Regions from separate parts of the Homo sapiens genome. Here regions 1, 3, 4, 5 and 6 are each reported to be linked to region 2. The links are microRNA targets in miRTarBase. Many come from high-throughput screens and were not tested one by one. Region 2 holds a microRNA gene; each other region holds the end of a gene's coding sequence.
What was found. Region 2 holds the annotated microRNA hsa-miR-8085 (UGGGAGAGAGGACUGUGAGGC, at 1,732-1,752, shown strand). A microRNA usually pairs through its seed, bases 2 to 8, with sites in the 3' UTR of a target mRNA and lowers its output. Matches are read on the target gene's strand: a 7mer-m8 pairs with bases 2 to 8, a 7mer-A1 pairs with bases 2 to 7 and ends in A, and an 8mer does both.

Region 1 (4,071 bases), not on the chromosome of region 2:
ACCCAATTAGCCTTTCAGAGTGCAAAGCAGCTTTTATTTCCTCTTCTAGAGATGTTGAGGTTTCTAGTATACAGAGGTCAGTCACCACAGATATACTCAATCTCATTCTTCATTTCAGTTTGATTTGACATCACACATAAATCAGACTTTTATAGTGATTTTCGTGACGTATCTTCAAGTTCCACCTTGCTTTTCACTTTTTCCTTTGTTGTGAGATAGAAACTTCTTTTCCAGACCCTTATGCTACTAAGGCAGTAAGGTCCTCTCTGGCCCAGTTCTACAGACCTCAGCCTCCATATTCGGCTGATCTCTACTCTGGACTGCCTTTCTTGGTGATGATACTCACCAAGGGCTCTGCCCATAGACATCCTCCCTCCCTGTGTACACAGTCCGTCTTTGCTCCCCTCAGCTGTTTCTAAATCTGAAGCCACTTCTAGCTGTCTTGCCTCTGTCAGGTAACACTCGCTGTTCATGCTGTTCACTCCAGCTTCCTCTCACAAATCATTTCTGTCTAATCCATAGTCTCTCTGAAAGGCTTTGGTACCGCTGCCCTCTCACTATGAAGTGTGCTTGTCTTATTGAAGCTCGTGCTTCAGTACGGCTCTGAAGGCAGCAACTGGAGGGGGAGAGTGCGGCTGGAAGTGCACAACCCACAAAGCAGTTGTGGGCAGTGCCACTCTCCTGAACCAAGGCTTCCCCAGCTCACCCAGTTTGGGAAGGGAAAGCCTTCTGCCCTCTTCCTTTCTCTATGTAGCACCTTATTTCTCCTCCATCTGTCGATAGCCCCTGATTTTCATCTCCATTGGTCTATAGTTTCCCTTTCTATTTCTATTAAAATCACAAACCCAGAGTGGACTTTAGGAGCTTTTATCCTCCATGTAGGAAGGACTAGATTCAAAACACGTCGAACTACCACCTGGACAACTCTCTTCCTTCCTTCCCACTGCAGTGTTAGCTTCTTTCCAGTTACTCATCTTCACAGAATAAAACCTTAGGTCACACCCTAGTCATATTTTTAGAAAATGGTGCCTTATATACAAATATGAAATACAAACCAAAGGATGGGATTAGGAAAAATAGAGTGACATTACCAAATAGTACCGAGTGGCACATTACGATGAAAAGATGAGCATGTTTCTGGTCTGGGACTTGCTCTACTGCCTTCTAGACTCTTTTCAGAGGTTTCACCTACTTCATCTACACCAGCTCTGAGCCATGTTTAGAGAGAACCCAGGAAATAAAAGCACCCAGATTGACTAGATTGTTTCTTTTGTTGGCTAAATTCTTTATCCTCTGCTTCCCTACAATGCCTGTCCTTTTCTTTTCCGATTTCCCACTTGCTTGAGGACTGCTAGGACTGCTGGGAAAATGACACCAATTACAGTGAGAGGAATATAAACACAAGGCTAATAACTCAACGCTCCTGGCTTCAGGTATAACCAAAGAGAGCTGAAAGGATACATTCTTGGGGGTGGCTGAAGGACATGAAGCCATACCAAACGAATCATTTCCTTCTGGTTCCCAACTTAAAATCACCACATGTCTAAAACCTATTTCATAAATAAAGAGCTGCATTAAATCATAACTATTGTGGATAGCTATGTGCGATAAGATTTTGCTGTACTAAAAAATAAGCATATCCTAACTTATTGTCACTAGTATGACATCCTTTAGGGATTTTCAACGGGGAGCCATTTTGCTCCCCAATATTTAGCAATGTCTGGTGACATTTTTGATTGTTGCCACTGTGGGGGTGCTACTGACATTTAATGGATAGGCCAAGGATGCTGCCAAGTATCCTGTAGTACACAGAACAGTCCCTTGCAACAAAGAATTATCCAGTTCAGGCAGGGCGCAGTGGCTCACACCTGTAAACCCAGCACTTTGGAAGGCCAAGGCGGGCGAGTCACCTGAGGTCGGGAGTTTGAGACCAGCCTGAACAACATGGAGAAAGCCCGTCTCTACTAAAAATACAAAATTAGCCAGGCGAGTAATCCCAGCTACTCGGGAGGCTGAGGCAGGAGAATCGCTTGAACCCAGGAGGCGGAGGTTGCGGTGAGCCGAGATCATGTCATTGCGCTCCAGCCTGGGCAACAAGAGTGAACTCCATCCCCTCCCCACCTAGAAAAAAAAAAAAAGAATTATCCATTTAAAAATGTCAATAGTTCCAAGGCTAAGAAGCCCTGCTTTAGGGGATGCCAGTTTCTACTGTGTCTTTTTTTCTTTTACTTTTGTTCTTATGAATATTCACTGTTTGTTACCAAAAACAGCAGTATCATCCATTTTTGTCAGACTGAAAGCATGACCAGAAATATGGATGGGTAGGAGCAATTTCAGGGAGCCGTTATGTTCACATGTCTTCCTCTCCAAGACCCCAATGGGGTACCCAAGTGCTGTCTAGGAGCTGGTGACTGGCGCCATAGGAACTGCAGTGGGCCTTGTCTGGACTTTGCCAAAGGTGTGATCTCCCTGGGCTGCCCTGTGCATTCTGGCATGACGCTGAGGTTGGCATTAGTGTATTGAGGTCATTTCAGATAGCACAGGGTGGCCCAGGGCCATGGCTATGTTCTGCCTAACTCAGAACATAATTTTCAGAAGAAAAAAATCTTGACCCTTAAGTCATTATTAAAATGTTACAAAGTAAGTTGGTGACTTTTTGTCCTAATGTTCTCCATAAATATGGTGTCTCCTTTGGACTCCCGATTTATCAAGGCTTTCCTGCTGTATGTTGCCAAGATTCTAGCAACAGACTCTGTGATCCCATTTCTGCCCCTCATGTTTTGGCCTGTGGTGTCTTCAAGGCTGCCATGCTCAGCCAGGGGCTCTCCTATGTCAGGCTGTGTTAGGACTACCCTGGCCTAGAGGCAGTAGAATAACCAAAATGAGCCCTGGACTTGACCGTCAAAACAGACCCAGCTCCAGAGCCTCCAGCTTTGTTCCCTTCACCCTGCGTTCCCTGGGGAGTCCCATCCTGCATTTCCTGTCCCATAAATTTGAAAGTGCTTTGTGAACTAAAAAGCCCATGTAAAAGCACAGGCCTGTACTGGTTATGGAATTTCGTGCTCTCTCATCACTTAAGAAATTGGGCCCATCTTCCAAATGGCCTCAAATTACTTATTTTCTTCTCAGACCAATCTATTTTAGAAAGAAAGAAAAAAGAAAAGAAAAGAAAAGAAAAAAGGAAACAAGTCATCAATGTGGCACTATGGTACAAGACATGGCTTAGGAAATTCTTAGGCCTCGTGTTGAGGTTTCGAAGGACATTGCGTGTTCCAATACACCCCGATAAGCAAATAGGCAGTTTACAGAAGGGAGTCCTCAAAACCACACACTCTGTCCTACTTCAGGAACTCCGAGAAGAAATCCAAGAAGGGTGCATCGAGTGGCATCTGAATTTTTAGGAGACGTATCTTCCTCGTGGTCTGATTCTAAAGGTGGAGACTAAGCTCTCTCGGGCCTGCTCACGGGGCTGACACATGCTAGTCAAAAGAATCGGGTCAGTTTTGTGCTCTACAATGTTGAAAGGACAGGACTTCAGGTGCTCAGACATGGAGGTGACTTCATTAAACTCCCAGCTCTTGATTTTGGAGAAGAGGCTGCTGAACTGCCAGATCTGTTGAGAAAGATAGAAGTTCAAAGGTGAATATAGGGGTGTTACCCTCTGGCTGGCTTTATTTGGGCACTATAAGGAAATATCCTCCTGTTCTTCATATTCTTAGACTCCAGAGTGTTTAGTGGCTCCTGCAGACATTTGGTAGCCCCTCCTCCAGCATCCAATTCCTAGTTCCCCCTGCCAACCAATAATCTTCCCAACCAGCCCTGTAGTTGTGAGAATCACTAACACCAATCAGCATATTGACACACACTCTCCCTTGCTCCTCCACCAGCAAGTGATTAATTTTAAAGTAGATGCACAGTTCAAATCAGAACAATTAGTACCAGTGCAACTCTTATTCCAGAACTTTTGTTGGAGATACCAAAAAGCAGATTCTCTTTTTCTTTCTCTACTTGAACTGCAAAGCTGAAGTCCTAGGAGGTGCCAGCAATCACCAGAGACCACCGAGTGAGCAC
Region 2 (4,070 bases):
AATAAGGGTTCAGAAAACCTGGGGGAGGCAGGACTAGAGAGCAGGGCTGGACACAGGTCCCTCACAGTCACTGTTCCCCAGACACCGCTCCACCTGGCTGTGATCACCACATTACCGTCTGTGGTCCGGCTCCTGGTGACAGCTGGTGCCAGCCCCATGGCGCTGGACCGCCATGGCCAGACGGCCGCTCACCTGGCGTGCGAGCACCGCAGCCCGACCTGCCTGCGAGCCCTGCTGGACAGCGCAGCTCCGGGCACGTTGGACCTGGAGGCCCGCAATTATGACGGTAAGCATTTACCGCGGGGCACCGCTGGGCTGTCCAGCGGACCTGGAGTCCATCAGCGGCCGCAAAGCCCGGGCCTAGGTTTCACCGAGCCCTCCTCTCCCTCAGGGCTCACCGCCCTGCACGTGGCAGTGAACACCGAGTGCCAAGAAACCGTGCAGCTCTTGCTAGAGCGCGGTGCCGACATCGACGCAGTGGTGAGCGTGCACTAGGAGCTGGGAGGGAGCGGGGCCTTAGCAGGGGCGGGGTCTTGGCGGGGGCGGGGCCAGTGTGGGGCTGGCGTGGGAGAGCACCCGGGTGGGGTGGGGCTTGGAGTATCAGACCCAAGAGAGAGGCTGGACCCCGCGAATGGGATGTGGACGGGATGCGGGTCGCCGGCTGCTGGAGCAGAGCTTGGAGAAACTAAGACCTTCCCTCCCCGCCGCAGGACATTAAGAGCGGCCGCTCCCCGCTCATCCACGCCGTGGAAAACAACAGCCTTAGCATGGTGCAGCTGCTGCTGCAGGTGCGTACAGCCCCCCTGAGCCTCGCGCCCACCCTATCCTCTGACCCCAACCCGGCTCTGGCCTCAGCCCCTAGCTCTGACCCCGCCTTCCACTTCTGGCTCCGGCTCCTGCTCCGCGTCCAGCTCTGATCCTTTAAGGCCTAGTTTTCTCGACCCTCGGGCTCCACGCCCCTGGCTACGAACTTGTCCCATTCCTCCTCTGCCACCTCAACGGCCTAGGCCCCGCCCTGCGATGGCCTGGCTGACCCCGCCTTCCAGCTAGGCCCTGTCCACGCATTGTCCTTCCCCCCTCCAGCTCCCCCGACTCCTTGGGGCGCGGGCCTCGGTGTCCAGCTCCGGTTAATTCATCGCCGCCAACGCAGTCCCGCTTGGCCTGCCCTTGGCTCTCGCTCCTACCTTCCTGTGACCCCACCCCGATCCGGTGCCGCCCCACGTGCCGGCCACCCACCCGGGCCTCCAGCCTCTGTTCCCTTACCCCGGGTGGCCCGCGCGCCCTCCTGACCCGGCCCTCCCGTCCCGCAGCACGGCGCCAACGTGAACGCGCAAATGTACTCCGGCAGCTCCGCCCTGCACTCAGCGTCCGGCCGCGGGCTCCTCCCGCTGGTGCGCACGCTGGTCCGCAGCGGCGCTGACAGCAGCCTCAAGAACTGCCACAACGACACGCCGCTCATGGTGGCGCGCAGCCGCAGGGTGAGCCGGGGCAGCTGTGGACATGCCCCTTGCACACGTGTGTCCGCGGGCTGGTTGCAGGCGAGTGTGCCAGAGCGCAGAGGAGTGAGGGTGTCTGTGCCGTTGCGTGGAGGGGAGTGGGTGAGCCTCTGAAAGCGCGGGTGTGAGTTCCAGAAATGAGGAGAGACTGGCACCAAGAAAAAAAGTGCCTTGCCCATCTTTTCATACTGAGAAGTGGAGAGGCCACCACCTGGATCCAGTGAGCTAGGAGGGATGGGAGAGAGGACTGTGAGGCATGGGTGGCTCTATGGTCACGCCCATCTTCCTACAGGTCATCGACATCCTGAGGGGGAAGGCCACCCGGCCTGCTTCCACCTCCCAGCCAGACCCCTCCCCTGACCGGAGCGCCAACACCTCCCCCGAGAGCAGCAGCCGCCTCAGCTCCAATGGTGAGAAACCGTTCCCAACCTCCAGCCCTGGCGCCTCCTCCCTCAGACCCAGGAATCCCAACCCACAGCCCCTCCTCCCTCAGATCCAGGAGTCCAGGCCCCTAGCCTCCTCCCTCTGACCCAGGAATCCCAACCCATAGCCCCTCCTCCCTCAGACCCCTGGCCCCTCCTCCCTCAGACCCCAGCCCCTCCTCCTTCAGACCCCCCAGCCCCTCCTCCCTCAGACCTCAGCCCCTCCTCCCTCATACCCCCAGCCCCTCTTATCTCAAACCTCAGCCCCTCCTCCCTCAGACCCAGGAGTCCAGATTTCCAGACCCTCCTCCCTCAGACCTCAGCCCCTCCTCCCTCACACCCCCAGCCCCTCCTCCTTCTGACCCCCGGCCCCTCTTCCTTCAGACCCAGGAGTCTAGGTCCCCAGATGCCTCTTTCCTCAGACCCGGGAGTTTAAATCCCCAGCCCCTCCTCCCTCAGACCCGAGTCCAGACCCCCAGCCCCTCCTCCCTCAGACCCAGATCTCAGGCCCCAGCCCCTGCTCTCTGGGTCTAGCCTCTCACCACCCACCCCTCTGTCTCTCTTCCTTCCTCAGGTCTTCTCTCCGCATCACCATCCTCCTCACCCTCCCAGTCTCCCCCCAGGGACCCCCCTGGATTCCCCATGGCTCCTCCCAATTTCTTCCTTCCTTCCCCATCTCCACCCGCCTTCCTGCCCTTTGCTGGGGTCCTCCGAGGCCCTGGCCGGCCGGTGCCCCCCTCCCCAGCTCCAGGAGGCAGCTGAGGGGGATGGGGGGGCAGATCTTGGACTCATGAGGAGGGGCCCCCCTGCCCTGTGGGGTCAACCCTTCTGGAAACTGTGAAGATCTCACTCTGCCCCCCCCCCCCATCTTCGGGACCAGGATTTGCACAGAAGCACATGCACCTACCCATACACCCCCTCTTCTGAGCACAGATGTTCCCCCATCTCGCTCCCTCCCAGGACTCTGACCCCAGCATTCTCAGGCACCAGTCCCTGTCCGGAATGCCACCCACATCTTCCATTTCCATGTCCCCTCCCAGAGCTGGTGGACCCAGGGAACAGCCACTCCCCTCCACTCTCTACCAGATAACTGAGGAGGGGAGAGGTGGGCCGTAACGGGCACGGATCACGATGTAAATTATTAAGCATTTTGGTTGGATTTCTTTTGTAATAAACTATTTTTGTACCATATCCCTTGGGTGCATGGGCCTCTTTCATGAGATGGACCTGGCGGAAGTGCCTTCGTGTGTGTGCACACCCGTGCACTGAATCCAGTTGACTCCCAGAGTGATGTTGTGAGTCTCAGACAGACAATCTCCTGTGTGTCACTCTGGGACTTCTGGTGTGTTTGGTTGTGAATGTTGCCATCATTGTCACTGTACCATTGTTTCTAAGGAGGACGTGGTGTGTGATATCTTTTTTTTTTTTTTTTCAAGACAGAGTCTTGCTCTGTCGCCCAAGCTGGAGTGCAGTGGCACGATCTCGGCTCACTGCAACCTCCGCCTCCCCGGTTCAAGCGATTCTCCTGCCTCAGCCTCCCGAGTAGCTGGGATTACAGGTGTGCACCACCACACCTGGCTAATTTTTGTAATTTTAGTAGAGACGGGGTTTCACCATGTTGGTCAGGCTGGTCTTGAACTCCTGACCTCATGATCCTCCTGTGTCGGCCTCCCAAAGTGCTGGGATTACAGGCATGAGCCACTGCACCTGGCCGGTGTGTGATATCTTTCCAGGGCACCCTGTTGGATTCCGTAGTGACCCTGGGCATGTGTGTTTCTGTAGTGTGGGGGTCCTGGTGATAACCCACAGCTGACTTCAGCCCCAATCGTCTCTGGCTGTCCGAGTGCGTGGTGCTTGGGAGTGTTCCTAACATTGAGATCTGGGGTGATGCTGTGATTGTTGCCCTGTGACTGCCTCACATGGCGTGAGACAGTTTTACTTAGTGGTTCCATGGGGCCCCTCTAATGGACCACATCTGTGGTTTTGTTGTTGTTTTTTTGGGGGGGGATGGAGTCTCACTCTGTCACCCAGGCTGGAGTGCAATGGCGTGATCTCGGCTCACTGCAACCTCCGCCTCCTGGGTTCAAGAGATTCTCCTGCCCCAGCCTCCAGAGTAGCTGGGATTACAGGCACCCACCACCATGCCTGGCTA
Region 3 (4,087 bases), not on the chromosome of region 2:
GAGGAGGAGATCATCCAGTACGTGGTGGGCACCCTGCAGCCCAAGCTCAAGCGTTTCCTGCGCCACCCCCTGCCCAAGACCCTGGAGCAGCTCATCCAGAGGGGCATGGAGGTGCAGGATGACCTGGAGCAGGCGGCCGAGCCGGCCGGCCCCCACCTCCCGGTGGAGGATGAGGCGGAGACCCTCACGCCCGCCCCCAACAGCGAGTCCGTGGCCAGTGACCGGACCCAGCCCGAGTAGAGGGCATCCCGGAGCCCCCAGCCTGCCCACTACATCCAGCCTGTGGCTTTGCCCACCAGGACTTTTGAGCTGGGGCTGACTCCTGCAGGGGAAGCCCTGGTCCAGCTGGGTGCCCCCTCGAGCTCCGGGCGGACTCGCACACACTCGTGTCATCCAGATGTGAGCACCGCACCCAGCGGCAAAGAGCCCTCCCCCCTGCAGGGCTCCACCCATCACCCTCCCTCCGTCTGTCTTTCCGGCCTGGACCCCACCCTCCACACTCTCAGGCCATCACAGAACACCCCAGCTTCCTCATTCTGCTACAACACCCAGGCCCTCTGGACATCCAGAAAACCAAGTGTCCGGATGGCAGGGGCCAGCGGCCACCAAGCTCATGGGACACCCAGAGCAGAAGCTAGGGCAGAGCCAATGCTGAGGGAGCCTCGACTTCCGGCGCCGCCGCCCTCTCCCGGCATCCGCAGAGCCAGCTGACGCCCTCCCTGCCTCCCAGGGCAGCTGGCCAGCCTCGGGCAGCGCGGCCCCCTCCTCCCAGGGGAGAGTAGAAGTCGCACACGCAGCAGAGCAGACCTGATGTCCCGGTGCTTCCTGGCCCCTCAGGTGAGCCCCTGCCCCAAGGCAGTACCGGCTGTGGGGCATCTGAGAGCTGGCGGGATCCGGAGGCTGTTTTCTAGGAGAGCCCACTGAGGCTTGGGCCCCCAGCAAGTTAGCCAAAGGGATGGGGTGGGGCTGGCATCATGGAAGGGGGCATTGGGGAGAGTGGGCCGGGTGGGAGGCAGGGGCAGTTTGCTGAGCCAGCTCTCACATGGACCCGCGCTTTCTCTCCCCCAGCTCCAGTGATTCACGCCCGCCTGGAGAAGAATCAGAGCTCAGCTCATGACTCACCCATGGCAGGCGGAGGGTCCCAGAGGGGCTGAGTCCTCAAATCCGGCTGAGGCAGCAGCTGGCACCATCAGAGCCAGGAGAGTGACAACAGGTAACGGAGCACCACCCTTCCACCCAGACCCCACCATCAGCTGTCCCGGCCAAATGAGCTCCTCCCCAGACCCCAGACACCCTGCGGCCCAGGCCACTCCCCAGTGTTCGGGCTCGCTGGGAGGCTCTGACGGGGTCGGGGGGCCTCTGCCTTGGAAGACCAGCGCCATCCACCGGCCCCAGCCCCTCCCCATGGAGCCCTGGCTACTGTCCTGCGTGGTCCTTCACTGCCCACTCTCCTGTTCTTTCAGGTCTCAAGGTTCCCACAAAGTCTTTGCTGCTGTGCTGGGCACCACCCACCCCTCACCTTGCAGGCTGCCTGCGTGGGAGGCGAAGTCCCAGGACAGCCCAGAGGGGGGCTACAGAGAGGAGTCGGCTGCAGCAGAGGGCAGGAGCCCCAGCTTAGCCCTGAGCGCCAGCGCGAGGACCAGGGCCTGCCACTAAGCCCGCCCCGCTGGCCGCCAGCTGCCCGTCCCCAGAGCCACTGCAGCAGGAGTCGGGCCCTGCCTCCCTCCCAGCAGGGAAACCCCGCCCGCTGCCAGGCCATCCTCTCTGCCAGAGGCTTTCATGAGCCCCAAGGCTGGGGCCACAGCTCCTACCCCTGCCCAGCAGCCCTGAGCTCAGCTGCAGGAAGGACATCCCAGAAGCCATGGCTCCTGGGGCGCTTCCAGGCATTCTGCCCTGCCCCGACACCAGAACCCTGGTGCTGGTGGGCCACTAGCGTCTGCAGCCTAAGCAGGTGCTGGCTCAGGGTTCATCGTTCTGCCTTGTCCACTGGGGGACCAGCCCTGCAGACCACTCTGACAAGTCTTCAGCCCACACCCTGCCAGCCCCACAGATTTTATTTTTGCACATAAGCCATAACCAATCCTCAAGGCTGGCACAGGCTTTGGGGAAGCCCTGGAGCCTGTGAAGACCCTGGAAACCTCATGAGGCTGTGGCCAACCCCTGCCCCTTGCCCCACACAGACCAGGCCTTAAATGTCGGTCCAGGCCCTGTGCACCTTACCCCAGAGACAGACTCTTTTTGTAAGATTTTGTTAATAAAACACTGAAACTTCCTGGAGTGTTCATGTTGTTTCTTCTGTGTGCTTGGGCTGGGCAGGGGTGGAGCTGCAGACACAGGTCCCCCGGCCCAGAGGGTCACCCTGGAGACCCCATGGGTGTAGTGAGAGGTCTCCGGGGGCTCGGGGGAGCACCAACAGGGCAGCCTCCATCAGGGTCCTGGATCCTCAGGGGGAAGCACCCTCAGGGATCCACACTGCAGCCCCACTACAGCCCCACTGCAGCCCACTAGGCCTAGCTCAGCCCTGCCTCCAGGCCCGAGGTGGCCATCAGTGAGGGTGACTGCTGACTGGGGCAGCCCTGTTCATGCTGAGCTCATGCCTGCCCCTCTGTAAGTCCTACTGGCACGTGGGGTGTACAGCTGGGTGCATGGGGGGATTACAACTAGGGCTTGGCCCACACAGCCATCTCAGGCTCCGGAGCCCTGTGGACCTAGTCAGTGCAGACCCCAGCTGGGAGGGGACCCTGGCCATTCCTGGTTGCCAGATCATGAACTTGGTCTCTCTGAGCCTCAGTTTCCTCATCTGCAAAGCAGGGCATCTATCCTCAGAGCATCTGTGCTGAAGAACTTGGAAACAAGGGTAACTTGATGCCCTGCGGGACATCAGCCTCCCCCGCCTTTGTGGGGACACTGGATTCCGAGGGGCTGCGGGAGGTCAGCCTCCACTGCCTTTTTGGGGACACTGGATTCCAAGAGGCTGTGGGAGGTCAGCCTCCCCTGCCTTTATGGGGGCACTGGATTCCGAGGGGCTGTGGGAGGTCAGGCTCCCCTGCCTTTGTGGAGACACGATTCCTAGGGGTTGTGGGACATCAGCCTCCCCCACCTTTGTGAGGACACTGGATTCCGAGGGGCTGCGGGAGGTCAGCCTCCCCTGCCTTTGTGGGGACACTGGATTCCGAGGGGCTGCGGGACGTCAGCCTCCCCTGCCTTTGTGGGGACACTGGATTCCGAGGGGCTGCGGGACGTCAGCCTCCCCTGCCTTTGTGGGGACACTGGATTCCGAGGGGCTGCGGGACGTCAGCCTCCCCTGACTTTGTGGGGACACTGGATTCCGAGGGGCTGCGGGAGGTCAGCCTCCCCTGACTTTGGGGGGACTCTGGATTTCGAGGGGCTGTGAGAGGTCAGCCTCCCCTGCCTTTGTGGGGACACTGGATTCTGAGGGGCTGCGGGACGTCAGCCTCCTCTGCCTTTGGGGGGGCACTGGATTCTGAGGGGAAAAAAGAGATGGCCTGGGTTAGGGATCAGCCCCTACCCATCAGTGTTCAATGAGAAACAGGACTGACAGGAGACAGGAAATTCATTGCAAGGAATTGTTTTACTCAACGTACGGGCTGCTGAGCCAGTCCAAAATCTACAGGGCAGGCCAGAACCTTGGGGAAGGGGCTGAAACAGGCACGTGAGGGTGTTATTTCGTCTGCATCTGGGAAGCCTTAGCTCTGCTTTTATGGCCTTTCAAGGGACTCAACCAGGCCACCCAGGTTCCCAAGGATGCTCTTCCTGAAAGCACCTACGACAGACCTTCGGCACAACACCTCTGTTAAGATTTGATTGAGTGACTGAGAGCAGTACCCCGGCAAGGTTGACCCTCACAACCATCATGGTCATTTGCTGCCGGAAGTTTCCCACCCCTCTGGTGGGGTTGCCCTGCTCCTGGGGATCCCGGGCCAAGCTGCGGGGTCAGCTGGTGGGTGGTGTCAGCTGAGCCCTGCTGGGAGGCCGGGTGCATTGCACCTGCAGGGTTCTGGCACTGAGCTCACTGCTCCTGCAGCAGCGAGGGGCCCTGGGAGAGCAGGAAACAAGAGGAGACTAA
Region 4 (4,087 bases), not on the chromosome of region 2:
TCAACAAGTTCTGGCGCCGCTACGGGAAGCTCTCCCGCCACCTCATGAAGGTCAAGCTCAAGAAGTACACCAAGTTCCTCTTCGTGCGCGACCCCTTCGTGCGCCTGATCTCCGCCTTCCGCAGCAAGTTCGAGCTGGAGAACGAGGAGTTCTACCGCAAGTTCGCCGTGCCCATGCTGCGGCTGTACGCCAACCACACCAGCCTGCCCGCCTCGGCGCGCGAGGCCTTCCGCGCTGGCCTCAAGGTGTCCTTCGCCAACTTCATCCAGTACCTGCTGGACCCGCACACGGAGAAGCTGGCGCCCTTCAACGAGCACTGGCGGCAGGTGTACCGCCTCTGCCACCCGTGCCAGATCGACTACGACTTCGTGGGGAAGCTGGAGACTCTGGACGAGGACGCCGCGCAGCTGCTGCAGCTACTCCAGGTGGACCGGCAGCTCCGCTTCCCCCCGAGCTACCGGAACAGGACCGCCAGCAGCTGGGAGGAGGACTGGTTCGCCAAGATCCCCCTGGCCTGGAGGCAGCAGCTGTATAAACTCTACGAGGCCGACTTTGTTCTCTTCGGCTACCCCAAGCCCGAAAACCTCCTCCGAGACTGAAAGCTTTCGCGTTGCTTTTTCTCGCGTGCCTGGAACCTGACGCACGCGCACTCCAGTTTTTTTATGACCTACGATTTTGCAATCTGGGCTTCTTGTTCACTCCACTGCCTCTATCCATTGAGTACTGTATCGATATTGTTTTTTAAGATTAATATATTTCAGGTATTTAATACGAAATGTGGAAGGGAATGCTGGAGTAAAATATCCCCTCTCCCCTCCGCCCGCCCACCCGCCCGCCCGCTCGCCCGCTCGCCCGCTCCTGTGGTTTTTCTGAGCGTGCGGGCGCCGGGAGGGGATGCTGAGGCTGATGGAGCTGCCTCCAGGGCTAGGGCCACTCACCGGAGGAGGGCGGGGCCTGCACTTGAAGTCAGGCCGCACCTGTCTGTTTTTGGAAGGGTAGCCGACAAATCCTTCCAGAGGGAAAGTTCTTTGTTTAAGTGTTGTACTTGAAAAGGTCAATCTTCAGGGCTTCCTGTTTGAAGTCAAGTCAGAGGTAAACCGGTCAGTTACAGAAGCAGGATTTCTAGGATTTCTAACTCCAGCTGTTCCCATACTGTCTAGTTTAAATTATGGCTGTTAAGGCCGGGCGGGTGACTCAGGCAGGTAATCCCAGAACTTTGGGAGGCCCAGACAGAAGGATCGCTTGAGGTCAGGAATTTGAGACCTGGCCAACATGGTGAAACCCTGTCTCTACTAAAAAAAAAAAAAAAAAAAAAAAAAAAAAAAAAAAAATGAGTCGGGTGTGGTGGTGTGCACCTGTAGTCCCAGCTACTCAGGAGTTCTGAGATGGAAAGATTGCTTGAACCCAGGAGGCAGAGGCTGCAGTGAGCTGAGATCGCGACATTGCACTCTAGCCTGGGTGACAGAGTGAGATTCCATCTCAAAATAAATAAATAAATATTAATACATTATGGCTATTAAGGCTGGGCACGGTGGCTCATGCCTGCAATCCTGGCACTTTGGGAGGCTGAGGGGGGAAGATCACTTGAGCCCAGGAGTTCAAGACCAGCTTGGGCAACATAGCAAGGACCTCATCTCTACAAAAAATAAAAAGGACGTGGTGGTGCACATCTGTAAACCCAGCTACTCAGGAGGCTGAGGAGGGAGGATCACTTGAGCCCAGGAGTTCAAGATCAGTTTGGACCACATAGCGAGACCCTGTGTCTACAAAAAATAAGAAAATCAGCCGGACATGATGGTGCACACCTGTAATCCCAGCTACTCGGGAGGCTGAGGCAGGAGGATCGCTGGAGCCCAGGAGTTCAAGGCTGCAGTGACCTATGATCGTGCCACTGCACTCCAGCCTGGGCAGCAAAGTGAGACTCTGTTTCTAAATAGACAGATAGAAGATAGGTAGATAGATAGATTAAATAGAAAGTAAACTATGGCTGTTGAGGTTTACAGTTGGCAGGAGTGGAGTGGTTTGGCGTTTATCTCTAGACCGTGCTGGATGACAGTACCCAGTGTCACCAAGAAGAGGCTCCGTGTGACTGTCTCTGTGGCTTTCTGGTTGGTTTAGCTCCAGTGCCTTCACCCTCAAGGACACGACTGACCTTGAACCCTCAGGTTTGATGGGCCCTGTCTTGATAAAAGTGTCAGAGGAGGCTCTGGAAACATCTGGCTGAAACTCCTTTGCTATTTCTGCTTCTAAGCTGTAGTTGGAGAGATGGTTGCAATCATTTCGTGGTGTCGGGCACCCTGCTTGACCTGTCTTCCTCGTGTGTGGTATTTGTCACCACTGCCCAGTCCCTGGTTGCTGGCCACGCTCAGTTGGGACATACCCTGGTGTCCTCTGTGTGTGGTGTCCCTGTGTTTCCCAGGCTCAGGTGGGCTTGTGTGGGTCTTGGCCCCCAGTGCCTGCTAGCCTCAGGTGTCCCCTGTGTTAGACACCTCCTGCCTTCCTTTCTGAAGCTTCGCTTTCTTTTATTTTTGTTTTGTTTTGTTTTTGGAGACAGGGTCTCGCTCTGTCATCCGGGCTGGAATACACTGGTGCAATCACAGCTCACTGCAGCTTCAACCTCCTGGGCTCAAGTGATCTTCCCATCTCAGACTCCCAAGTAGCTGGGGTTACAGGTGAGCGCCAGCCTGCCCAGCTAGTTTTTTATTTTCAGCAGAGATGAGGTCTCACTGTGTTGCCCAGGCTGCTCTCAAACTCCTGGGCTCAAGTGACCCTCCTGCATCACCCTCCCAAAGTGCTGGGATTACAGGCATGAGCCATCACACCTGGCCCCTCCAAGTTTTTTATTATGATAAAAATGTTTAATTTTAAACGTACCATCTTAACCATTGTTAAGTGCACTGTTGTGTGGCATTAAGCACATTCGTATTGTCGTGCCACCACCACCATCATCTCCAGAGCTTTCTCATCTTCCCAAACTGAAACTCTGTCCCCATTCAGCACTCGCTCCCCATTGGTAGAAGGCAGCAGCTTCCACTCTCTGATTTCTACTACCCGAGCTCCCTCAGAAATGGAGTCACACAGTATTGGTCCTTTTGGGACTGAAGTACTTCACCTCATGCAATGTCCTCTAGGTTCATCGGTGTCGTGGCAGGTGTCAGAACTAACTTCCTTTCTGAGGCGGAATAATGTCCCATTGTGTGGAAGAGGCATGGTTTGTTTATCTGTTCATCAGTTGGTGGACACTGAGTTGCTTCTGCCTTCCTGCGAATGTGAATTGAATGCTGCTGTGAACAGGGTGTCAGTGAATCTGCTGAGGGCTTGTTTTCCGTATTCTGGGCATGGCCCTTTGTGTCTGCCTTTGCTGGAGCACCTCCCCGGGATGCGTTTGTTTATAGGATGTTCAGACGAATGTCAGAACCCACTGGGCGGTTCACTCACTGAGGGGGGCCCGCGTCCCCTCCATTTCTGCATTCCCAGTTCTTGGTATGGTTCCTCTGAGGTTCGGTTTTCCTGAGCACCTGGGGTGTTTGCAGGGATGTGGAGGGGTTCCTGCAGAAGACACCACCCACATCCACGCACCTGCTCAGATTCCCGGGCCATGGTCGGGGCCACCGCCCGTGGGGATGACTCCGGATGGGAGTGGCAGAAAAGGGCCTGCTGGGCCGAGGGGAGGCGTCTCCGGGAAGAGAGGGAGGTGTGAGCGGGGAGAACCCACTTTGATTCTTCGCTGTTTGCCTGATGCGCAGCACCACACTGCGTAGAGACCTTTGGCTCTGGTTTTTTCTTTTTCCACTGAAACACAGCAAATTATACATTTTATGAAAATTGGCATCGTACAACTGGAAAATTTAACCATAAACTTAAAACTCTTTTACCCTGTTGGCCCCCATCCTCCAGCTGTGTCCACACTTTGAGCACAGTCATGAGAATGACTTGGTTGGGTGCGGGGTGGTGTCACAAAGCCCTGTCTCTTGTGTGATGGCTGCGCCTCGAATCAGTGGGAGGGCACCTCGCCCGTTTACAGTTGGGCAATGCTTGGGCTGGGCGGCCTGGCTGCTCCTGGACTCGCCTCCCAGCGTCTGATGCT
Region 5 (4,087 bases), not on the chromosome of region 2:
GTAAGTGTTTCCTTTTGTGATTACCTAGAAAGAAGGAACTATTAGGCTGGAAAACAAAACACAAGGAAGAGCTTATTATTCTCAATTATTTGAATAATTTGTGTTTGAAAAATTAACTATATTTGAAGTTTGTTAACTTATAAGGAAGAACTAGGACCTTTGAGTAGAAATGAGAAAGATGTCATTTTTAGCTTCACAGGAGGTGTATCAAACAACTAGATCTACCCACTACTGGGGTCAGCTACCTTCGAAGATAGTGTGTTTTGTTATCATGATAGATGATCAAGCAGAGGCTAAGTGGCCAGCGGACAACTCCAGAGGCAACTCTGGAGGGTGGGAGGTCCACGATCTTGGTTTACCAAATCTGGATAGTAGATTTGGTAAGGTTGATGTCAGCCAGTAAAAGTCAAAGTGAAAGCAATCAGAAGTTGTCTCCAGTATAGCCTTTGCAAAATGCTATGAAATTGTTGGCAAGGATACCTGACAAAATTATAGTAAATGTGTACATTCAGCTACCTGGACACTGTATTAGCTTGGTAATTTAATACTATGTATCTGTGGTTGTTTTCAGGTATTATTTTCCAACCTATGAAAATGACACTCTCCTGTGTACACTATCTGACAGTGAAAGTGACCTGACAGCTCAGGAACAAAATGAAAATGTTCCCATCATCAGTGAAGATACATCTAAACTGTATGCTTTGAAACAAAGCAGTATTTTGAACCAGTTGCTACTATAAGAGTACTTGAAAACCTAGAAGAAACTACCACAGAAGCAATTTTTCATGTTTTTCTCCTATGAGACAGATATGAAAGAACAATTTAAATTTGAACATCAACAAAAGATTGGTCCTTGGTGAAATAAACTTTTCAAAAATGAATGTTCTTTTCAAAAAATAAAGTAGAAAAATGCACTTACTAAGAACATGAAAAAAAATGAAGTAGGAAAATAAGATGAAGACTTTGTATTTTGGCTGTAAAGTTTTATTGTGTGATCATCTTAAATTATCTCACTTCATTAAACTCATAATTATATATAGAAGTATATGTCAATTACAAAGAAATGAAATGTTCAAATTATTTATAAACCTGATTTTTCAATCAGTAGTTTCAGTCTCCTCCCCAAGGACCTTCTTCATCCAACAAGTTGCAAAATTTGAATATCCCTTCTGTACTATATTGGGTGAGCTGTAAATGTAATGACTAAAAGAAAAGCCACAGAAGAAAGAAGAAATGGTCAAAGACGTGGATAATATGCAAATTGGCCATTATATTAGAACAATCAAGAGCTGACTGTGTTATTACCACTTTCTGCCTAGGGTGGCCAAATTCCCTAGAAATAGACATCAAGCCAGTTAACTTCACTTTTCCCTGCAATTTGTATGTCACTAACATTTAAATGCCATTTTTTAAAAACATAACCACAATACCATTATGACACCTAAAAAACATTAACATTAACTTAATATCATCTGTTTTCAGTTTTTCCCACTTGTCTCAAAATGTATGTTTACAATATTATCAGTTTCATTACTGATGAATATTATATGCCTCCTGATAAGATGTACTGAGGAGGACAGAATATCACTTTTGTAGATTTATACCAAAAATGCATAATTTGGATATAATGAAGAAACAGTCAAATCCAAGTTTGAGGCTGGGCACAGTAGCTCATATCTGTAATCCCAGCACTTTGGGAGGCCAAGGCAGAGGATCACATGAGGTCAGGAGTTCAAGATCAGCCTGGCCAACGTGGCAAAACCCCATCTCTACGAAAAATACACAGATTAGCCAGGCATGGTGGAATGCACCTATAGTCCCAGCTACTTGGGAGGCTGAAGCACAAGAATCGCTTGAATCCAGGAGGCAAAAGTTGCAGTGAGCCGAGATCACACCACTGCAGTTCAGCCTGGGCAACAGACCAAGACTCTGTCTCAAAAAAAGGAAAAAAAAAAAAAAAAATCCAAATTTAAAGGACATTCTACAAAATAATTGGCCTTTACTATTCAAAAATTTTAACATCATAAAAAACAAAGACTGAAAAACTATTTCAGATTAAAGGTGGCTAAAGATAGCGTAGCATGATCCTGGATTGGATGCTAGACCAAGAAAAAAAGTTTTTCTTTTGCTACAAAAGACATTAGCAGGACAACTGGCAAAATTTGAGTAAGATTTATAGTAAGTGTTATGGTATTGTTGTTAATTTCCAGATTTTGATAACTGTACTGTGGGATGAGAATGTCTTTGTTTTCAGGAAATATTCATACACACTGAAGTATTTAGGGGTAAAGGAGCATTTTGTTTGCAACTTACTCCCAAAAAACTAACAAGGGTATATATAGAATAATGAAGTAAACATGGCAAGATGTTAACATTTAGGGAATCTAGGTAAAAGTATGTGGAGATTCTCTGTACTATGGCAACTTTTCTGAAAGTCTGAAATTATTTCAAAATTAAAAGTTTTTTAAAATGTCTTTTTTCAGCCAGGCACGGTGGCTCACGCCTGTAATCCCAGCACTTTGGGAGGCCAAGGTGGGCAGATCACGAGGTCAGGAGTTTGAGACCAGCGTGGCCAACATGCTGAAACCCCGTGTCTACTAAAAATACAAAAATTAGCCAGGTGTGGTGGTGGGCACCTGTAATCCCAGCTACTCAGGAGGCTGAGGCAGGAGAATTGCTTGAACCTGGGAGGTGGAGTTTTGCAGTGAGTTGAGATCGCGCCACTGCACTCCAGCCTGGGTGACAGAGCAAGACTCCATCTCAAAAAAAAAAAAAAAAAAAAAAGTCTTTTTTCAGTTGTTTTGTTTAATCAGGTTCCAAGTGAGATCCATGCACTATATTTGGTTGGTGTGGTTCTTAAGGGTCTTTTAATCTATAACAATTCACAGTTTTTTTTTAATGCCACTTATTTGTTAAAGCAATTGGATTAGTTGTCTTGCTTTCTGGATTTGGATGATTGTATCTTCTTTATATTATTTAACATGTTCCATTATCATTCATTGTCTCCATCCATTTCTGCTACTATAACAGAGTACCTGAGACTGGGTAATTTATAAACAATTAGATTTTTTTCTCACAGTTCTGGAGGCTGGGAGGTCCATGATCTTAGTTTAGTGTCCAGTTCGAGAGCCCAGTCTCTATTTCCAAGATGGCACCTTGAATACTGCATCCTCCAGAGGGGACAAAGGCTGTGTCCTCACAGGACAAAAGGATGGAAGGACAAAAGGGCCTAGCTAGTTCCCTCCAGCCCTTTTGTAAGGTCATTAATCCCAGTGATGAGGCCTCTGCCCTCATGGCCTGATCACCCTTCTGAAGGCCCCACTTCTTAACACTGTTGCAGCAAGAATTAAGTTTCAACAGGAATTTTGGAGGGAACATCAAAACATTGAAATTATAGCAAACCCTTTTATAAGGTCATTAATCCCATCCATGAGGGCTGTCCTCCTGGCCTAATCACCCTTCTAAAGGCCTTTCTGACCTTTCTTTACAGTGGGTTTTTATTTTTATTTTTTACTTTTCTATTTTTGAGTTGGAGTCTCACTGTCTCCCAGGCTGGAGTGCAATGGTGCAATCTTGGCTCACTGCAACCTCCCCCTCCCGGACTCAAGCGATTCTTCCACCTCAGCCTCCTGAGTAGCTGAGACTGCAGGCACCCACCACCACGCCTGACTAATTTTCATATTTTTAGTAGAGATGGGGTTTCACCATGTTGGCCAGGCTGGTCTCAAACTCCTGACCTCAAGTGAGCCACTATGCCCAGCCCTACAGTGTGTTCTTTATGCAGCATATGTGCTACAGAATGCTGGAGTCTGAGGCTCTGGTTTTCAATTATTAATGCTAGTCTGTGTAGGTAATGCCCCAAAACTCATCTTGGAGTCGTATTGCCTGTCCAGAGACTCAAGAGTCAACCTCCTCCCACCATGCGGTCCTAACTCAACTGTATTTGTTAATTACATAGGCTCTGGCCACAGCTCTAGATTTCTAACCCTCCCACTCTGCAGACACCATGAAAGGCTTTTATTGAAAACTAAGCAAACAAAGATATAGGAGCCTGTATTATAATGAAAAATGCCTAAGTTAAAGATGC
Region 6 (4,087 bases), not on the chromosome of region 2:
GTGTGAAAATTACTCTGCTTGTCCTTGACATTCACCTACTGGTTATGGAGTCATCGGCACAGGGGTTTCCTTGATTGGCAAGGGAAAGCCAGCATAGGCTTAAGGGCTGTCCCAGACAAAGTAGATTATACACCCTAACCATTGACAGTTCAGTGGTAAGTGAAACCGCATTTTTCATGCTACATAAATCTCAATTGGGATATTTTTAATACCATGAAAATAGTAACATTCTGTATCTGTCTCTCTTTGTCCAGGTGTGGTGACATGATTGTGGCCGTAAATGGGCTGTCAACCGTGGGCATGAGCCACTCTGCACTAGTTCCCATGTTGAAGGAGCAGAGGAACAAAGTCACTCTGACCGTTATTTGTTGGCCTGGCAGCCTTGTATAGATTTTGGAAATTGGTTTCAAATCTTGCATCTTCCTTTTTTAGATTTTTGAAAGAAAACCCTTTGGTTTCATTGTGTTTGTGGTTTAGGAGCTGCTGACACTGCTGGTATACACAGGGCCAAAACCCACTAAGATTGTCCGTTTATGTTTATTTAAATGGTTTCCTAAGTTAGTTACATTTCTTTTAGCTTGGAAACAGTCTTCCACTAACCTTTGTGAGTTTATATTTTCAGAATTCAGACTTAGTTGTTAAAATGTTACCTATGGTAATGAGCAAAGCTCACCCAAACTGTGCCCCAGATGGAGTAAAGACCTTCTGGTGGGTCTTTGTTTTCAGTAACTGAATCATAGAACGAGTTCTGTATCCCTCAGGCCTGATGTCAGCAAAGCCAGTAACAACAGCGTGTACTGCCACTGTCATAACCAATACCATGAATGAATATACTTTAAATTTTGGTGATAACTGTTCCCCATTTTTTTTTGAACCACAGTCTCACTCTCACCCAGGCTGGAGTGCAGTGGCACAATCTCAGCTCACTGCAAGCTCCGCCTCCTGGGTTCACGCCATTCTCCCACCTCAGCCTCCCGAGTAGCTGGGACTACAGGCGTGTGCCACCATGCCCAGCTAATTTTTTGTACTTTTAGTAGAGACGGGGTTTCACCGTGTTAGCCAGGATGGTCTCGATCTCCTGACCTTGTGATCTGCCCGCCTCAGCCTCCCAAAGTGCTGGGATTACAGGTGTGAGCTGCCGCACCCGGCCGTTCCCATTTTTTATTGGTGCCAACATTTCAAAACTTCATACTGTTTATAAACTGATTTTCTGGTTTATTTCTACTGTAATCTCTCAATATTCATAGAAGATGAAGAAATAAGTCTGACAACACTAAAGAAATTTCTTAATATACTATTATTAGAATAGTAGAGGATAAAAGATAATGTTATCCAGTTACAAAGGAATTTGGATGATAATTATAACTTAATGTTAGAGATGGTAAAGCTGCACTTACTTGAACAGCCCAAAAGCATTAAAAATCTATTTCCAGAGGAATGTTTTGCTATGTAGGGAAATTTTGAAGTAGTTTTTGCTAAAAAATTATTTCTAGAGTTGTGTTATTCTTAGCAGTAATCTTGGCTAGAAATGTTTTTGTGATTTATGCGATTAAACGAAATGATAAAGATAAAACCATATTATTAAATACCTATATATCACAGCTAAGTAGGAGAAAGGGAGACCTTTTTATTTTGTTCAGGTAGGAGTATTTCTTGTGTATTTTAGAAACAATTATTTTTCCCATTATTTCTTATGAGATTAGTTGTTTCAAGTAGGAGACAGAAAAGTTCTGTTTTGTTGGAAATGTAGGTTTTAGATGTATCTTTCAGTCAGCTCTCAGTCACTAGACTATTTCATATTTTTTGAAATGTTTTTGAAAATTATGACTAGCCCATTTTTTGTCCTTTATTCAACATACTTATCCTCTGAACACATAAATAAGTGAATAAGATAAAAATATCTTTACCTTATTAATATTATACATACTTGAAAAAAATTTCATTTAGAAACCTAGTTCAGAATCTGAGCAAATTTACAAGTGACCTCTGTAATAAATGGTATTGATAATCAGAGAATGTATTTCAGAATACTACAGTACAATATATTATGAAGCATGACCACTTTATTTTGAAACTTAGCAATTGTATTGCTGGGGTTTATTGTATCTGTAGCATGTCACTGATTATTTCAGTTAGTTTTATAATGATTTTTAAAAAACATATCTATTTGGAATAAGATACAGCAACAATCATTGCTACTGACTTGTTCAACCCCTTAGTTACACTGTATGATCAACATATAACAAGATACAGTGGAATGGCCCATACAGTATATTACTGTTGTGTGATGATTGGCTTTGGAAGCAGTTTGATTTTGAAATGCTTTGATATTCTAATTGACATGGAACAAGTTTTTTCCCTGCTCCCCAAATAGAATTTTGTAACCAACTTTGCTATTTTTTTAAAGTTTGTAAGAATGTGTCATTTCTTGGGGAGTAGCCATCCATCAACAAATATCCTGACTGCTACTTTGTTATATACAAAATACTTACATTGAACCTGGTGGCATAATGAGTATTTTGAAAGAAGAAATTTCTTCACTCTCATTTTTATAGAAATCTTGGAATCAGCTTAAGCTGTAGCTTTTATGACAAAAGACAGTCATTTTTGGTCAGAGTGATATTTGGTGACGGAAACTTGTTCATAATTTATTGTTACTATAGAACTATTTGGATTTTCTCATTTTTAGTTCTGATAGTTAAATATTTTGGTTTGTTCTGTGCCTTCAGTTTAAATTATTTCAGGATTTTTCAGATGTTTAAATAATGGTGTGAATCATTCAGGATGGAAATAAAAGTCATCCTTTCTGTAATAGTGACGTTGTCTCTTTTCTTGAACAGCAGCTGTTGACTTAGTCTGTGATCTGTATTTTTGTTGCTGGCTCCACTGTCCTTATAATATACCGAGCACCGAGCATGAAACCTCAGGATCACAAACCCACCTTATTCTCACCCCACAGTTTCTTTTTCTTTTTCCTTTTTTTTTTTGAGATGGAGTCTCGGTCTGTCACCCAGGCTGGAGTGCAGTGGCACGATCTTGGCTCACTGCAACCTCTGCCTCCGTGGTTTGAGAAATTCTCCTACCTCAGCCTTCTGAGTAGCTGGAACTACAGGTGCCCACCACCAGGCCTGGCTAATTTTTATATTTTCAGTAGAGACAGTTTTGCCATGTGGGCCAGGCTGGTCTCGAACTGCTGGCCTCAGGTGATCCACCTGCCTCAGCCTCCCAAGGCACTGGGATTACAGAGGTGAGCTACCAGGCCTGGCCTCTTTTTCTTTTCTAATATGGTTACTAGGAAAAAAAAAATTTGTAACTGAAAGAAAGAAAGTTGTCTCCTAGTTTTCTGGTAAGTTAAGTTCAAACCAAGGCCTCTGTGGTCAGACTCCTAATTGGATTGTCCAGATGGCTCCATGGTGCCATTTACCCTCCCTTGCTCCAGCAGCCTCCTCAGAGCACACACTTACAGTATTTCCTCCAACTGTAAAGCTTTTTCTTCTCTGCTGGTTCACGTTGTTCCCATATCTGGAGTGAGGGCTTAAGTGACGCTCCATGTGTCTCACTCTCAACTCCACTCCCCACTTTCCTTCCTAATGGTGAATCTCCGTAGGCCTTTGTGTATGCATTTCTTCTGGCCTCGATCTCTTGCTACCTAGTTAGAGTTTTAAGTACCATCTTTAACCTTGCAACTTTGAGCACCACTGACACCTAAGTCTACAGCTCCCACAGTCCACAGCCTGAGACAGACACCCAGATCTCAGCACCTCCAAAACTGAAATCTGTGCTTTCCCAAGCATTTGCCTACTTCCTATCTCTTCATCTTTCAATCCAAACTCTTAAGCCTTGAGAGTAACTTCTGAACCCCAACTCTAATCATATCCTTGCCCTGTTTAAAAATCTTCATTTGGCTGGGCGCAGTGGCTAACGCCTGTAATCCCAGCACTTTGGGAGGCCGAGGCAGGCAGATCACGAGGTCAGGAGATCAAGACCATCCTGGCTAACACACTACTAAAAATACAAAAAAATTAGCCGGGTGTGGTGGCGGGCGCCTGTAGTCCCAGCTAACTCGGGAGGCTGAGGCAGGAGAATG

Region 1: miRTarBase lists FBXO40 as a target of hsa-miR-8085. Seed matches in the 3' UTR shown: 7mer-m8 at 624-630.
Region 3: the mRNA of ARC is a reported target of hsa-miR-8085. Seed matches in the 3' UTR shown: 7mer-m8 at 684-690.
Region 4: the mRNA of CHST12 is a reported target of hsa-miR-8085. Seed matches in the 3' UTR shown: 7mer-m8 at 808-814.
Region 5: miRTarBase lists ZNF277 as a target of hsa-miR-8085. The part of its 3' UTR that is shown has no 7-base or 8-base seed match.
Region 6: miRTarBase lists LNX2 as a target of hsa-miR-8085. Seed matches in the 3' UTR shown: 7mer-A1 at 958-964.

The regions. Positions count from the first base shown.
Region 1 is chr3:121,626,237-121,630,307 of GRCh38, reverse strand. FBXO40 (F-box protein 40) reads right to left here. Exons shown (of 4, transcript NM_016298.4): 4 at 13-3,613. The coding sequence ends at 3,398. Among named protein-coding and RNA genes, the nearest start is that of HCLS1, 33 kb to the left of the region's middle.
Region 2 is chr19:44,756,936-44,761,005 of GRCh38, forward strand. It overlaps MIR8085 (microRNA 8085), which reads left to right and starts at 1,722; the gene lies at 1,722-1,786. It overlaps BCL3 (BCL3 transcription coactivator), which reads left to right. Exons shown (of 9, transcript NM_005178.5): 4 at 82-286; 5 at 392-480; 6 at 711-788; 7 at 1,311-1,478; 8 at 1,789-1,906; 9 at 2,493-3,109. The coding sequence ends at 2,680. RefSeq lists enhancers at 1-355, 1,659-2,308.
Region 3 is chr8:142,609,234-142,613,320 of GRCh38, reverse strand. It overlaps ARC (activity regulated cytoskeleton associated protein), which reads left to right. Exons shown (of 3, transcript NM_015193.5): 1 at 1-837; 2 at 1,069-1,213; 3 at 1,464-2,272. The coding sequence ends at 240. Among named protein-coding and RNA genes, the nearest start is that of ARC, 3.2 kb to the left of the region's middle.
Region 4 is chr7:2,433,286-2,437,372 of GRCh38, forward strand. It overlaps CHST12 (carbohydrate sulfotransferase 12), which reads left to right. Exons shown (of 2, transcript NM_018641.5): 2 at 1-4,087. The coding sequence ends at 599. Among named protein-coding and RNA genes, the nearest start is that of CHST12, 32 kb to the left of the region's middle. RefSeq lists an enhancer at 1-634.
Region 5 is chr7:112,341,990-112,346,076 of GRCh38, forward strand. It overlaps ZNF277 (zinc finger protein 277), which reads left to right. Exons shown (of 12, transcript NM_021994.3): 12 at 572-1,945. The coding sequence ends at 740. All of the region lies in intron 1 of ZNF277-AS1 (ZNF277 antisense RNA 1), which reads right to left. Among named protein-coding and RNA genes, the nearest start is that of ZNF277-AS1, 6.5 kb to the right of the region's middle.
Region 6 is chr13:27,544,638-27,548,724 of GRCh38, reverse strand. It overlaps LNX2 (ligand of numb-protein X 2), which reads left to right. Exons shown (of 10, transcript NM_153371.4): 10 at 255-2,812. The coding sequence ends at 390. Among named protein-coding and RNA genes, the nearest start is that of LNX2, 74 kb to the left of the region's middle.